Linked DNA regions of Homo sapiens: all the other regions are reported to be linked to region 1. The links are microRNA targets in miRTarBase. Many come from high-throughput screens and were not tested one by one. Region 1 holds a microRNA gene; each other region holds the end of a gene's coding sequence.

Region 1 (4,000 bases):
ACATGAACATGGCTCACTGCAACCTCCCGGGCTCCAGTGATCCTCCCACCGCAGCCTCCCAAGTAACTGGGACTACAGGCATGTGCCACCATGCCTGGCTAGCTTTTGTATTTTTCTAGAGAACGTTTCACCATGTTGGCCGGGCTAGTCTGAAACTCCTGGCCTCAAGTGATCTGCCTTCCTTGGCCTCCCAAAGTGCTGGGACTCCAGGCTGCTTATAACTTTTGACTCCCTAAAAACTTCTAAAAGCCTACTAATGACCAGAAGCCTTACTGATAACATAAACAGTTATTTTTATGTTAACACATTTTTGGTATGTCATGTATCTCATATATACTGTATTCTTAGAATAAAGTAAGCTAGAGAAGAGAAAATATTATTGAGAAAATATGAAAATCAAAATATTTACTATTCATTAAGTGGAAGTGGGTCATCATATAAAGGTCTTCATCCTCATCATCTTCAAGTTGAGTAGGCTGAGGAAGAAGAGGAGGGGTTGGTCTTACTCTCTCAGGGGTGGCAGAGGGAGAAGAAACTCAGCAGCATAGATGTAAGTGTATTCATATACTTCAAACCCCTGTTGTTCAAGGGTCAAATGTAAAGTAAAATTAAATATCCATTAGTTTTTCTAAGGATTTCATGACTTTTTGTTGGTCAGCACTAAGTTACATACTTTTTACATAATTTTTATTAATGTATTTTGAATCTTTTCTCTGATTTACCTTAATTATATTGATTTTACTCTCTAGTGGGAAACTTGCAACTAAAAGCCTCCGTGATTAAAGAATAAGTGTAATTGTATGATTAAAAATACATGTAGATTGTTTTGGGGCTGCTGTTTTTTAAATGTCTTATTTATATTAATAGAAAAAAGTAAATCCAGATTTGCAAGTAGAAGTAAAGCCTAGTATTCGAGCAAGAAAGATTCAAGAAGAGAAAATGAGGAAGCAAATGCAGAAGGAGGAGTACTGGCGAAGACGAGAAGAAGAGGAGCGTTGGAGAATGGAAATGAGGTAATATCTTTAACTTTTAATAGCCTGGTAAGTGGTTCAGCCTTTCTTAAAAACTTAGCCATTCTGAGCATGTGACTCCCATTCAAAGCAATCCAGATTTATTTACTTCCAATTTTCACTCTTGAGGAAGATCCTAGGTCTAGGAAAGACATGCATTAAAATTGTTACTGGCTATACTAATATTTTACTGTGGCCTTGGTATTAGAGTTATATGTTTAAGTGGCATCTTTTATAAATTAAACATATGAAGAAATAGTTTCATATTATAAATAAGTGCCTCGGTTTCAAACAAGCAAAATAGACATACATTTCCTGATAGAAGTATAAGATTTGATAGATTCTACATGTTAATAATGTCCATAAAGAAACTTTAGTGGCTACAGGGAAGGAGAATTGAGAAAACATATTTCAAATATTTGTTTATATATATATAAAGATACAAATGTTAAGTTTTATTGAAATATAACATATCTTCTAAACTTATACAGTGACAGAGTTGTGTAACAATCACCACAATCAATTTAGAACAGTTCATCACCCTCAAAAGAAATCACGTACCCATTAACAATAATTCCCCATGTGTCCCACATACCTAGTATCTCCCCCAGCCCCAGCCCTGGACAACCTCTAACCTTTCTGTCTCTATAGATTTGCCTATTCTAGAGATTTCATATAAATGGAGTCATATTAGGTTAATGCAAAAGTAATCGCGGTTTGTGCCAGATGACGATTTGAATTAATAAATTCATTTGGTATAAACCGCGATTATTTTTGCATCAACTTACTACAGTCTATGGTCTTTTGTGTCTGGCATCGTTCACTTAGCGTGTTTTCATGGTTCATCCAGATTGTAACATGTTTCAGTATTCCATTGTCTTTTATGACTAAATAATACTGAATAATACATCCTTATGTACCACATTTTGTTTATTCGTTCATTAGTTGATGGACATGCAACTTGTTTCCACATTTTGACTATTATGAGTATTGCTGCTGTGAATATTTTTGTATAACTTTTAAAATACAGTTTTAGCAGAAACATACCATACACGTATTTTCATAATCCACTTTTTTCATTTACATACCTTCAACTTTAAAAACTAAATTCGGATTATTTTGTTTTTCATGAGGACATAGTAATTTTTGTGCATATGTAAAATTTTCTTCATAACCAATCCTTGTTGTTATTGTTTAGATATTTAGGTAGTTTCCAGTGTTTCCTTATTATAGTTATTAATATCTTGACCCTCCTTGAGGCACTTTTTTGTTTCTTTCACCAAGTATGTGAACCTATTGAGGCGATATTACTGCATACATTATCGTTAGTTGCTAATAATAGAATATGGGAAATGGAAATGTTTGAAGGATGCTCACATGTCTGCCTATACTGGATAGCATAACTCAGTGGTTCTCAAACTTTTTGGTCTCAGGATCCTTTATCCTCAATTATCAAGGACTCCAAAGAGTCCTTATGTGGGTTATACCTGTCAAGACTTACTGTATTAAAAATTAAAACTGGCCGGGCACAGTTGCTCATACCTGTAATCCCAACACTTTGGGAGGCTGAGGTGGGTGGATCACCTGAGGTCGGGATTCAAGACCAGCCTGACCAACATGGAGAAATTCCCATCTCTACTAAAAATACAAAATTAGCCGGCGTGGTGGCGCATGCCTGTAATTCCGGCTACTCAGGAGGCTGAGGCAGGAGAATTGCTTGAACCCGGGAAGAGGAGGTTGCGGTGAGGCGAGATCGCGCCATTATACTCCAGCCTGGGCAACAAGAACAAAACTCCGTCTCAAAAAAAAAAAAAAATTTAAAACTAAGAAATTTAAATATTTGTTAATTCATTTTAAAATGACATTTTAATTATTTTTTGAAATATGGTTACATGTATATTTGTTAAAATATTACACGATATATTTAATCAATAAAATACAGTAAAAAAATTATTCCACAGAATAGTGGGAAAAGTTATGCTATTTTACATTTTTGTACATCTCTTTAATGTCTGGTTTTAACAGAAGGCAGCAAGATTCTCATGTTTGCTTTTGTGTTCATATGTGGTGAATAACACATGTTGCCTCTGGATAATTTCACTGTACATTTAGAATGAAAGAGCAAGTAAGTGTCTTTAGTATTTATTATGAAAATAATTTTTTTTTTTAAACAGAGTCTCACTGTGTTGCCGAGGCTGGAGTGCAATGGCACGATCTTGGCTCACTGCACTCTCCACCTCCTGAGTTTAAGTGATTCTCTTGCCTCAGCCTCCCAAGTAGTTGGGATTACAGGCACCTGCCATCACGCCTGGCTAATTTTTGCATTTTTAGTAGGGATGGGCTTTCACCAGGTTGACCAGGCTGGTCTCAAACTCCTGGCCTCAAGTGATCTGCCCGCCTCGGTCTCCCAAAGTGCTGGAATTACATGTATGAGCCACCACGACTGGCCTTATTGTGAAAATAATTTTGACCCCATGGATCTCCTGAAAGGGTCTCCGGGACCACTTGGTGTCCCTGAATTGCACCTGGAGAACCCCTGCTACAGCTTAATAAAATCTCTACCAATTAAATGTGATAGCCATTTTGTTTCAGTTTGAATTGTTTTCATGTTTGGCTATTTATACTTCTTTTGTGGTAAATTGCTTGTTTTTTCTTATGTGTTGATTTGTACAGACGTTTCTTACGTTGTTATTATTAATAATCCTTTTTATGGGTTACCTTTAAATAGTTTTTACTATTATGTATGTGTTGGTTTTAATTTTTACACATTTATCAGTTATGTCCTTTATGAAGTTTCTGCCTTTGTAACATATTGGGAATTCTCTTCTATAGCTAGATTATACAGTGCTTTCCTCTTTCACTGATAATACCAACTATTAAGCATCCACAGTGTGCCAGGAACTGTATTAGGTAGTGAGCACAAATTGGTAAACAATGGATAAAGGTCCCTGCCCTTATTTGACTTAAACGTTGTTAGCAACAACAGTAAA
Region 2 (4,000 bases), not on the chromosome of region 1:
CAAAGAAATAGGGTCTTCTCATTTTGAGCCTACTGTTGGTTTGTATGTCAGCTTAACCTGATTCTCGTCTCCTGACAGGCATGCCAGATTTCCTGGAGAAGCTGCACATGGCCACTCTGAAAGCCAAGAATATGGAGATTAAAGTAAAGGACTACATCTCAGCTAAGCCTCTGGAAATGAGTAGTGAAGCCAAGGCCACCAGCCAGTCCTCTGAGCGAAAGAACGAGGGCAGCTGTGGCCCTGCTCGGATTGAGTATGCTTGACAGGCTTTGGGATAAGAAGGGACAAGGTGCTTCTAGCCCTGTCTCAGTCCGTTATCACTCTGCTGTAGAAGGGGGACATGCCACATGTATTAGAAGGCATCTGCTGTAACTTCCAGTGCAAGATAATTCAATAACTGATGTCCCATTTCATTCAGAGCCCTTATTGCTCTTATCAAAACAGAAGAAGGCTACATTTGTGGGAGTGTTGTCATATTCTCAGGCCAACTGTTTTGAAATTCGGTATCTCACTGAGCTAATCTGGAACAAACCTCTCACCTCAGGCCAGAAGGGGATGACCTCCATTTGCTTCTCTGAGTAGTTTCCTCTGCTGACATTCCAAATCCCACCATCGATTGTGCAGCGCTTTGGATTTCCTTCAGTTCTCCAGGTCCACCTGGAAAGTATAGTTGGCCAGTTGAGTCTCTCAAATGAGGGGCTACTGGGAGTGCTCTTGGTAACAATCATGATGTGAATGGGTGTGAACGATACTTGGCTATGTTAAGTGCCTTGTCCGCACCTTGCTTTTATCTCTAGAGACATGAAGTTATTATTAATTTTTTTTTTTTTTAAGTAGAGATGGAGTTTCACTCTGTTTCCCAGGCTGGTCTTGAACTCCTGGGCCATGCCTGGCCAGGGACATGAATTTGTACAAAGAAATTTCCCTCCCTGCCTGCACAATATCACCCATTGACTCACCTTATCCAAAGCAAGTTTCCTGTGAATCGGCCAGTTCTTCTATATTCATTGGATCATTGCCTCCTTCCTAACCTTCCCCATTTACCAAGAACACTGGGAGACTAATCCTTTTAGATAGTAGCTTTTTGATGCTCAAAACATCACATTTAAATTTAGTTTAAAAATTTTTTAACTTTTGTGTCAAATAGGAGTTGAGGAATTGAGCAGGATTCTACCCTAGTCCGATTGTATAGAAAACACCATTTTGATTCAGGTATTATTTTTCATATTTCAGGTTTGACTTGTTCTTTTCAGAAGGCTAAAGTCAGAGGAATGGGGGCTGGGCCACTCCCTTGGAGCTCTCAGATCTACAGACAAGCTGTGTGAATGCATAGATGTAATCTTGTCTCAAATACTAATACAGTGGAGATTTGGTTTATGTTACCATTAAGTTCCTCTAAAAAGTTTTTCTTCCTCTCTTCAGAGCCAAAATAAAAGTGAACTACACTGTTCAGATAAGGTCACAATCTGATGCTGTCAGTTTGACCGAGCTGGTTTTGCTTATGGTCATGCTGCAATTTGTTAGAATAATAGGGATCAAGTTTTAAATCCTCCTCCTTCCCTTTTTTCTGGAGTCTTGAGGGCCAGAGTTTTTGTTTTTGTTTTTGTTTTTGTTTTCCTGCTTGCTACTGTTTTGTGGTGTTGAAAAGTGGTTTAAACCTGAGACTAACTTAAACACTTCCTTGACCTTCTTGTTGCCTGTTCATTTTTGTGCCAAGGAAGTAGCTGCCCCAGTGTATGTCTTGCCTTCTCCGCGTCATTGTTGGAAGAGGAGAGATGCATCGAGCAGTCCCAGCTGCTTTTCATTTATTACTTCTTCTTTCCAGGACCTGACAGAAGTCAGGGAAGAGTCCCTGGGTTATGTCCAAACTTAGCACCTGCAATTGTTGGGATGTGGATGGATGTGTGCATAAGAGAGAGAGAGAATATGTGTGTGTGTGTGTGCGTCTGCGAGCGCACACACATGCACAAGTGCGAAGGAGTTGCGGTTGCTCCATGTTCTGACTTAGGGCAATTTGATTCTGCACTTGGGGTCTGTCTGTACAGTTACTCATGTCATTGTAATGATTTCACTCCTAACTGTGACATTTTTATCAAATGTGTGAATAAATACATAAAGATTGGTACAAAAAAAAGTGTTTGTCTTTGGACAAATGGTGGTGGAAAAATCTTGCATATTGGACTTACCATTTCTTTCTGATCACAAAGTTGAAAAGAATTTTACTCTGAGAGTTGGGAGGTGGAAGTGGCAGGGCTTGTTCATTCTTGGTAGATAGTGGCTGACACAGTTTGCCTAGACCACGAGCCCTTTCCAAGTGACCTGCTTGGCAACTGAAAATAAACCACCTATGTCCACTTCCCTAGCTTGATATACTGACCCATATCCTTTCCCTTTAAAAAAAGATCACTTTGGAGGGAGCAGTGCTAGAGCTTAGCAGACGGTAGAAATCAGGAGGGACAGAAGCAGGCCTGAGGTCTAGGGTTGAGGTTGAGGAGAGGGTCAAGTCAGCGCTCTTGGCGGAGGGGCAGTCCTGCTGGCATGCTCTGAGCATAACATGAGTTTATGTGTAATTTTGCCTGTGGGAAGCACTAGGTGAACACAAAAGCACACCCAGTTGAACTGAGCTGCATAGGAACACACAAGGCACACGTCCCTGTGTGGTGTACCATCTGATTCCAGAGAACCGCACGCCCCATCTCATGCTTGCAAGCCGCAGCCCTTCCATCGGCCATCCTGGCTCTGCCTCACACTCTGCTCTTTATTCTCTTTCAACCTCATTTGTGTTTTACCTCTCTAATTTTTTTTTTTTTGAGACGGAGTCTCACTCTCGCCTAGGCTGGAGTCCAGTGACGAGACCTCGGCTCACTGCAACCTCTACCTCCCGGGTTCGAGCAATTCTCCTGTCTCAGCCTCCCTAGTATCTGGGACTACAGGTGTGTGCCACCAAACCTGGCTAATTTTTGTATTTTTAGTAGAGATGGGCTTTCACCATGTTAGCCAGGCTGGTCTCGAACTCCTGGCCTTAAGTGATCCACCCACCTTGGCCTCCCAAAGTGTTGGGATTACAGGCGTGAGCCACCGTGCCCGGCCTATAACATTTTTAAGTGACAAAATTTTAGAAATGGAAGATTGATTTAGAAATGGCCGGGCGCAGTGACTCATGCCTGTAACTTTCGGGGGCCGAGGCTGGTGGATCACCTGAGATCGGGAGTTCAAGACCAGCCTGACCAACATAGAGAAACCCCGTCTCTTCTAAAAATACAAAATTAGCTGGGTGTGGTTGTGCATGCCTGTAATCCCAGCTACTTAGGAGGCTGAGGCAGGAGAATCACTTGAACCCAGGAGGCAGAGGTTGCGGTGAGCCAAGATCACGACACTGCACTCCAGCCCAGGTGACAGAGCAAGACTCTGTCTTAAAGAAAAAAAAAAAACCACATAGACCAGGCAGGGTGGCTCACACCTGTAATCCTGACACTTTGGGAAGCCGAGGCAGGCGGATCGCCCGAGGTCAGGAGGTTGAGACCAACCAGGGCAATATGGTGAAACCCCGTCTCTACTAAAAATACAAAAAAATTAGCTGGACACAGTGGTGGGTACCTGTAATCCCAGCTACTCAGGAGGCTGAGGCGAGAGATTTGCTTGAACCCGGGAGGCAGAGGTTTCAGTGAGCCAAGATCACACCATTGCACTCCAGCCTGGGCAACGAGCGAAACTCGAAAAACCAAACAACAAACCAGAGCAACACCAGGGATCCCTTGCGATGCTGGTCTACCACCACAGTCAACTGTGGTGTTAGATACACAAAACTACACTGGTGATAAAATTTTAAAGCTTTTTTTTTTTTTTTTTCCCGAGACAGAGTCTCGGACTGTTGACCGGGCTGGAGTACAGTGGCTCGATTTCAGCTCACTGCAACCTCTGCCTCCTGGGTTCAAGCTATTCTGCCTCAGCCTCCCAAGTAGTTTGGATTACAGGTGCCTGCCACCACGCCCTGCCAATT
Region 3 (4,000 bases), not on the chromosome of region 1:
TCCTATATTAACAGGACAAGCTAGGTAGGTGGGCTCTGTTTTGCCATTCTGTACATGTGACTTCATCTTTGGGTCTACAGCAATTGTCCCAGTCATCTTCAGCCATATGATTCAAGGTAGCAGCAAACTAGCAGCAAATTAACTTTCTAGCCCATTAAAAGGGAGAAGCAGAGTATTAAGGGCAAATAACTTCAGATTTCTAGGGAATGAATATTAAGTTGTACATATCACTTCTGCTTATATAAAAGTAACCAAAACCTAGCATTATCGCCACATGTAACTGTAGGAGAAATTGGGAAATTTACTCTCTATCTGGGTGGCCATTTTCAGCTAAAACCTGGTGGTAGGCTAAAATGAAGATGGGGAATATTGATCTTGGGATATAACAGCAATTTCCAAAGCAAAATAGAATGATATGGAGATAGAAACTGGGACAGAGCGGTTACATGATATGAGTAGTGTGAGAAGATCTAAGATCTAATATAGGCCCGATCAAAGTGACAGGAATGATTTTTAAAAAGTGGAAGAAAGGAAATATTGGGGAAAAATGGCTGGAAATTTTTCAGAATGAAGAAAAACACATATCCACACATAAATGAAACACAACATAAAACAAGCAAGAAAAACAGAAATTTACAATTAGATATTCTGAAGTGACTATAGATACTGAAATCGGGACCACCTTAAAATAAACAGAAAGAAGAAATCACTCTACAAAATAACCACAAGTAGACGAATAGCTTTCTTATCAACAATGAAAACCAGAAAAGAGTTAATATCTTTAACATGTTAACCTGAAATCAGGAACACAGCAAAACTACCTTCCAACAACAACAAGGAACGATCTTAGTAAATAAAAACTGAGTTTACCACCAAGAGACCTTCTCCAAGGGAATTTGAGGTACAATCATGGGAAACAAAATTGTTAAACCAAAACACTGGATAATAACTTGAGAGTTTATAGATAAGAGATCAGGGTTAAAGTTTCCTAAGGTCCATAGTATCATTAAGAAGGAGGGTTAAGATACTAATATTAGATATTTTTAAGTTAAATATGGTAAGTTTTGAGAGTAAAAGCATGGGTATAGAATTAACATCCTAACTGGTAGAGGGGAAAATATCATGAAATAAGAAGACAAACAAATATTTAGTCAATTAAAGAACTGAGAAGTGAAACATAGAGAAATCAAAGGAAGTGGAAAGCACAAAATAGGATAGCAGGAAAAAGTCCAATCATACAGTGTTAATATATGACAATGATAATAGAAAAAAATAGACTTTAAAGCAGAAAAGCAGTCACTACAAACAAAAGGTTCAATTCATTAAGATGATATAACGATTCTATATTTGTTTGCATGTCATAAAATTGCTCAAAATACATAAGATGATAATTGATAAAATTTCCTGAAACAATGTTACAATGGGAGATTTCAATAGTGCTCCCTCATTTGATAGGACATAGGGAAAAAACACAAAATAAATATCTCTAGATTTTATAAAGAAGTTATCAAATATTCTATTTTTATAGTCTTCCTCTCACTTTTTTCTCTCTCAGTGTATGCGTAGATTCCTAATCTTTTCAAGTCCTTAAGAGAAAGTATATAAAGCTCTAATGCTGGTTTCATTTATTCAAACACTACAAGTATCTACCATATGCTGGACACTGTGCTAGGCTTCTGGAAATAAAATAAATGACAGATACGGCTTCCACTTTCATGTTGCTTTTGTTTATACCCTTGGGCATTTTACTTAATCTTTTAGCGTATATTCATAAGAATACAGTTTTGGTGTGAAGATTAAATAAGATTATGTATGTAATGAACATATGGAGACTAAAATAACAGAATAATAAATGGTAAGTATAAAATAGATTTTAAAATGTTATTTCTTAAGTCTATTGTCAATCTTTACAATTTTATTGTAAATCATAGTGTGAGATACAGCTGCAAATATAGGGAAGTAAGTTCACAAACTGTTATTTTCTAAAGCTAAAGCTAACATTAGGCCTTGCTATGGTAGAACTCTTCACTGGGTTGTTTCTTAAAAAAAATTCACGCAACTGACAGGAGGAATTGTCTTTATTCTTGCATTAATGATAAATGTAATCTACAAGATGGCCTTCATGGATTAGAAAAAGGAATCAGACCACAAGGAAAAAGAAATTGCTGGTTTTCACTCAAGATTTATCTAGAAAAGTGTACTGACTACTGGAATAATAGTTTACCCCTGGGTTGTACCACAGAATGAGAAATTCTACAAGATTATACAACTCTTTTTCTACAAGATTACACTACTCATATTGTTTTTATTCCATTCCGGAATTAGAAATTAACTTTCTAAATATCATTTTTTTCTCCAAAAAAATCCTCTTACCAGCTAACCTGGATATGGACAAAAATATCTTGATTGCTGTAAAGGTCTATCTCCCTAGTAAAAATGAATAAATTGCCCTTGAATTTATTCAAGGCAATCACTATCAGCTGTGGAACACCCAGGTAAACTAACACAACTAGGTTCCTACACACAAAACAAATATTCTAAACTGTTTCCACAGGGCAGCCACCAAGGGAAAAATAAGGAAATTTAACTATTTTATTCTAAACACTTCATTTACATATAAGGCAACTGTGGCCCCAAGGTTGTGATTTATTAACCTAGTTAACGGCAGAAGCTGCACTAAAACCTGGATCTTCTACTTAAAATGTTGTTTTGGCCAGGCGCGGTGGCTCACGCCTGTAATCCCAGCACTTTGGGAGGCCAAGGCGGACGGATCACAAGGTCAGGTGTTTGAGACCAGCCTGGCCAGCATGGTGAAACCCCGTCTCTACTAAAAATACAAAAAATTAGCCGGGCATGGTGGCCTGCGCCTGTAATCCCAGCTACTTGGGAGGCTGAGTCAGAATTGCTTGATCCTGGGAGGCAGAGGTTGCACTGAGCAGTGATCACACCACTGCACTCCAGTCTGGGTGACAGAGCGAGACTCCATCTCAAAAAAAAAAAAGTTTGATTCTTTTATCATCAAGCATTAATTTAATATCCAAAGGCATATATTCGTATTTACTGTGCTTTAAACATTTGTCTGTGCGTCAATGCTTTAAAGGGACATACTATGTGGTGATTCATTTTCAAAGTAAGAATTTGCAGAAAATGAGAAACAAACTTTCTGAACAATACAATTTTAATGCATACTAAGGCTGGTTAACTGGTTAGAATACTAGGTTAACAAGGCCAAACTCCAGATAGGCCAACAGCTTTTCAAACCAATATTCCTGACACTGCCAGGAATAAAGAAAACTCTTCACTACTGAGGGAGGGACAGAAAACCTAGAAAAATAAACCATACTAAAAGAAAAAGGGTATTTTGTTTGTCACTTTAAAGCTGCTTTTTCTTTAAACGGTACACATATTTTCAACATTCTTACAAATGGGCCTTCTATTAAAAAGCAAACTATTGCTAATTCCATGGCTTTAAGTGGAGTACTTCCAATCACTTCCTCTATCCAGAAAATCCGTGACACTACATGCCAGCTACTTTGCATATTTATAACTGTTTAATAAACTATTCAAAATTAGCATCTAAAATAATTATACTTTGGACACACGAAGGCATATATTTGGTGAGAACATTGTAATTTTCATTTTGTAAACTATATATTCTATATTCAAGTAATAACACAGCATTGCCTATACAGAACTGAGGCCTGCGCTGAGACCCAAAACTTGTCTTTTCCTAAATGCACCACTACGAAGAGCTAATAAGAGGTCTGTCCAGATGCTAAGACCAGGTACTTCAAAATCTCCATCCTGCGCTTTACAGGTCTCCAGGGCAGTTAGAACTTTATCTTTCAGAGGTGGAGGGGCCTGACAGAGGCTTTGAAACCTATTGTGCAACTCCTCCCAGGGCACATCTTGGGACTCAGTTCCAACCCAAATGCCTTTCTGAAGGTCATAGTGCAAACGTTGACCCCAGTCTGTTAGCAGACCCAGATAGACAGGAGAC
Region 4 (4,000 bases), not on the chromosome of region 1:
TGGTGCACGCCTGTAGTCCCAGCTACTCAGGAGGCTGAGGCAGGAGCATCGCTTGAACCCTGGGGGCAGAGGATGCAGTGAGCCAAGATCACACCACTGCACTCCAGCCTGGTGACAAAAGGAGACTCCATGTATTAAAAAAAAAAAATCTACTAGAAACTGTTTAGCTGTACACTTTTTTTTAATTTAAAAATTTTTTAAAGATTATTTTGAGACAGGGTCTCACTCAGTTGCCCAGGCTGGAGTGCAGTGGAATGATCTCAGCTCACTGCAGCCTTGACCTCCTGGGCTCAAACCATTCTTCCATCTTTGCCTCTTGAGTAGCTGGAACTATACGTGTGTGCCACCATGCCTGGCTAATTTTTTGTACTTTTGGTAGGAACAGGGTTTTGCTATGTTGCCCAGGCTGGTCTCAAATTCCTGGGCTCAAGTGATCCACTCGCCTTGGACTCCCAAAGTGCTTGGATTACAGGCATGAGCCACTGTGCCTGGCCTAGCTGTACACTTTAAATTGGTGAATTTTATGTTATATGAATTATATCTCAATAAAGATATTTCAGAAAACTAACAACAAAAAACCACCTTAGGGCTGATGGGAGAGGGAGACAGAGGACCCACGGTGTGACCCCCAGGGTGCAGCTGCTAGGAAATGTGGGGTCCACTATGACTTTCCTCTGAGGTAGGCATTGGGGGCTGTACCCTCCCCAGGCTCTAGCCCTGGAACCTGGAGTGGAGACAGGAGCTCTTGGACCTGAACTGGCCTTGCCACAGACGCAAGTCAGGGTGGTGCTTCCTCAGTGCCCCCTCACGGCGAGTCCCCCGTAGGGATAGGGATGTAGTGCAATCACAGTGACTTGTTTGTAGTTCTGAAAAGCACTTGCCCATGTCTTGTTGAGTTACTGCTGTGATTTGCACTTAATAGGGGAACCTGAGCCAGAGATGCGAAGGGGCTTGAACAAGGTCAGACGTGTATTAGTGGAGGTCGAATGGTGCTCAGCCTGGTGCTCTTTCTTCTTCCTGTCACTCTGTTCTTCATATACAAAATGCTCCCCTCTCTGCTGAGGTAGGGAGGGGGATCATGGCAGGGCCAGTCCTTCTAGTCTTTGCTTCTTGGCAAGGATGCAGATCATTACAACATCTGCTTTGCAGGGATTCTTCTGGACAAGGATGTGGTCATAGAGGTCACAGGCTGAGAATCAATGGAGACACGTGGTGCTCATCTGCTTATGAGGAAGATGCCACTTTCTTGCTTGGTCCACTGATGGGTGAGAATTCTGGCCTATTTAATGATCTCACTCCAGCTTTTTGTTTTTGTTTTGTAGCCATAAGAGTGTTTGAGAACTTTACTAACCTAGGTAAGATCATAATTGTCCTGTAATGCTGCACACCAGCAGACACTCTCTTAACTGATGACAATCTCCAGGAAGCCTATGTGCCTCAGAATTCCATCGCATCATCACTGGAACTCCCGGCACACACTAAGACACCTCCAAAAGGGTGCTCCCAACACACATCTCTAAAACACACCCAAAACAACACTCCACACTTGGGTTTACTGAAGTGTTTATTAAACGGGATCTGACATCTCTGCCATCACACTTTCTGGTTTGCTTCTTGCGATCTGGTCATCCAGCTCTGCTGACTGGGGCTTCGAGGACAGAACTACTCTGATGCAGAGGAACGTCAGAGGCTGGCCATGTCTGTGCCATGAGGGTGTCTGTGGCCATCACATTCCCCTTCCACAGTTGACAGGGGAAAGATGCCTGGCTTCTCTGCACTTAGGCTCTTTCTGTGCACAGGGGGCCTGCCTGAGACACCCGGCCCATCAGCCATGGGGCACGATCCTTGTCTACCACCTACCTATACCCATATCCCATATTGTTCACTATTCCCTGACTGTAGACAGTCAGGTCCTGAGGTCCTGCCTTGATGGCAGCTGAAGAAACAGCTCTGCAGCTCTCACCATCAAGGGCTTGCAGGAGTGTCTTGATTAGCCATTTGTCATTTGGTGAGACCTGGGCTACTGCAGGAAGAGCTCTGCTTATCTGCTTATCAGGAACACCTGCTGCATTTAGGCCCCAAACTGATACTAGCTTCTGGTTGGCCATTATTTTCATACCTTTGTAAAATATCCTGTAGGGAACATTGAAACGTGTGCAAGCACAAACACAAGTTTCTCATTAGACCATAGAGCATGCACTCTAAGGCTTGTTCTACAGAGCTTTGCGTTAGCCTCCACAGGGACTGAGAAGCCACAGGACTCTTCCTCCTGACTGCTCCCTCACTGCAGTTGCCATGAAGAATGGTGTGTGTGCTCTTCCTGGCAACAGCCTCATGGACCCGACAACAATTTTTAGAAGTAAAGCCTATATTGCAAATCCTTTACAGATTTACAAAGGAATATCTGATTCAGATGTCTTTGTTCCTTCTGGGTTAACTGTCACTTCCGTGGCCCCATGGCAGAGAACTTGCCTGCCTGCCCACTTCCTCCTATCCTCCCATTTTCCCTCCTCTTCTTCCCCCCTCACTTCCTTTCATTTTGAAGACATTTATATTTATCACCTATTCTGCTACCAAGTGCCTAAACACGGCACTGACACTTCTCTGTGCTGTGCCACCCCTGGGCAGCCTCTGTGGTCCTGCCCACAGCAGACATTGCCTTCTGGGCCCTGGCATTCACTGCGTTCAGTTTGCATCATCAACCTGGAATCTTGGAAAGGCCATGTGGTAAGGAGGCTGGAAGTCCCCAGCCATGTTTCTGGAATGAGCTTTGCTCATCTGGCCTGGCTTTCCCACAGTGAGCACAGAGCGGCATTGTTTTCCTGAGCAGCTCAGCCCCAGCCCTAGAGCATGCAGAGAATGTGGCCCACGGCCCGGCTGCTCCCACCAGAGGCCTGCAGCCTCCCCTCCCGACCCTGAGCAGTCTTGGTTGGTCAAGACCCACAGCCACCTTCTCTGCCTTAGAGATGCTTAAGTTACTGACACTTCCCTGGGCCTGCAGAGATGGGTGGACCATAGGTTCCTCACTGAGTGTTGTGCCCTGGGTTGGGAGTAAGAAAAGCCCAGAGGCTTTTGCTGGGCAGACATCCTCTGTCCCTTCTGGGCTGAGTCAATGGCACCTGCAGCCTCGTGCGCAGTGGCAGTGATGGTCTTGTTGGGGAAGCATAAGGGTTTCCCCACCTGTGGCCAGGAGGAAGGAGCTTGTGCTGGCTTGAGGTGGCGTGAGCCTTGTTTGTGCCTCCCTCGAGGCCTCTCCAGAAATGCTGGCCAGTCACACCTCCTGATGGCCTCAGGGGCCCAGCCAGTGTGGGGGTGTCTGGTTACCCCTTGAAAAGCTGACCAGAGAAGACCCTGAAACTCCAGGGAGGGCCATTGAGCTAGGTAGACCCCTCACTGAGCGTCCTCCAGGCTGGAGCAAGCGCTCAGAACAGGCCGGTGGCTGTAAGAGATGACAGGAAGAGTGGGGCCTGGGGAGGGGGAATGATGGGTGTCGTGTCAGAGGTGGTCTCCTCTGGCTCACTGTCCCCATCATCCAGACCTTCGGCGAGGGAGGGGACTATGCGGACCAAGTTGTCTTCAAAGTGCACCTGCTTCTTCTTGGCCAGGGAGTCGGCTGGCTCCAGGCTCAGCTCCATCAGGGTGTTGGGGGGCTGGAGGGCACTGGGCTTCTTAGTCCCCTTCAGGATACTCTTCATGTGGATGAAAAGGGAGCTGGGCCCCTCCTTGAGGGCCCCATGGAAAGTGTAGGTTTGCTCTGTGTCCCCAGAGCCGGTGGTGCTCACAGCGCTGCTAGAGGGGTCTGTGTACTGCTCTGGGGAGGCCAGCACCTCGGGGGCAGCTTTCCTCTTCTTCCGCTTGCTCAGAAGGAAGTAGGCCAGGCCGGTGATGATGAGCATGGAGCCTGGAAAAGAGCCAGAGGTCAGGGCTCTAGAGGAGTCACGGAAAAAATCCGGAGTCCTTGCAAGCATGTCGTGCAGCAGAGCTCCTGCAACCCGGCGCT

Evidence for each region. Region 1 holds the annotated microRNA hsa-miR-579-3p (UUCAUUUGGUAUAAACCGCGAUU, at 1,758-1,780, shown strand). A microRNA usually pairs through its seed, bases 2 to 8, with sites in the 3' UTR of a target mRNA and lowers its output. Matches are read on the target gene's strand: a 7mer-m8 pairs with bases 2 to 8, a 7mer-A1 pairs with bases 2 to 7 and ends in A, and an 8mer does both.
Region 2: miRTarBase lists STARD7 as a target of hsa-miR-579-3p. Seed matches in the 3' UTR shown: 7mer-m8 at 689-695.
Region 3: miRTarBase lists FANCF as a target of hsa-miR-579-3p. Seed matches in the 3' UTR shown: 7mer-A1 at 3,635-3,641, 7mer-A1 at 3,119-3,125, 7mer-A1 at 2,606-2,612 and 7mer-A1 at 1,621-1,627.
Region 4: miRTarBase lists TMEM72 as a target of hsa-miR-579-3p. Seed matches in the 3' UTR shown: 7mer-A1 at 2,534-2,540 and 7mer-m8 at 2,002-2,008.

The regions. Positions count from the first base shown.
Region 1 is chr5:32,392,172-32,396,171 of GRCh38, reverse strand. It overlaps MIR579 (microRNA 579), which reads left to right and starts at 1,697; the gene lies at 1,697-1,794. It overlaps ZFR (zinc finger RNA binding protein), which reads left to right. Exons shown (of 20, transcript NM_016107.5): 11 at 868-1,013.
Region 2 is chr2:96,182,993-96,186,992 of GRCh38, reverse strand. It overlaps STARD7 (StAR related lipid transfer domain containing 7), which reads left to right. Exons shown (of 8, transcript NM_020151.4): 8 at 79-2,134. The coding sequence ends at 263. Among named protein-coding and RNA genes, the nearest start is that of STARD7-AS1, 23 kb to the left of the region's middle.
Region 3 is chr11:22,621,002-22,625,001 of GRCh38, forward strand. FANCF (FA complementation group F) reads right to left here. Exons shown (of 1, transcript NM_022725.4): 1 at 1,532-4,000. The coding sequence ends at 3,685. Among named protein-coding and RNA genes, the nearest start is that of FANCF, 2.8 kb to the right of the region's middle. RefSeq lists enhancers at 3,712-3,871, 3,882-3,931.
Region 4 is chr10:44,934,557-44,938,556 of GRCh38, reverse strand. TMEM72 (transmembrane protein 72) reads right to left here. Exons shown (of 5, transcript NM_001123376.3): 5 at 1,547-3,901. The coding sequence ends at 3,423. All of the region lies in intron 1 of TMEM72-AS1 (TMEM72 antisense RNA 1), which reads left to right. Among named protein-coding and RNA genes, the nearest start is that of TMEM72-AS1, 23 kb to the left of the region's middle. RefSeq lists an enhancer at 2,682-2,976.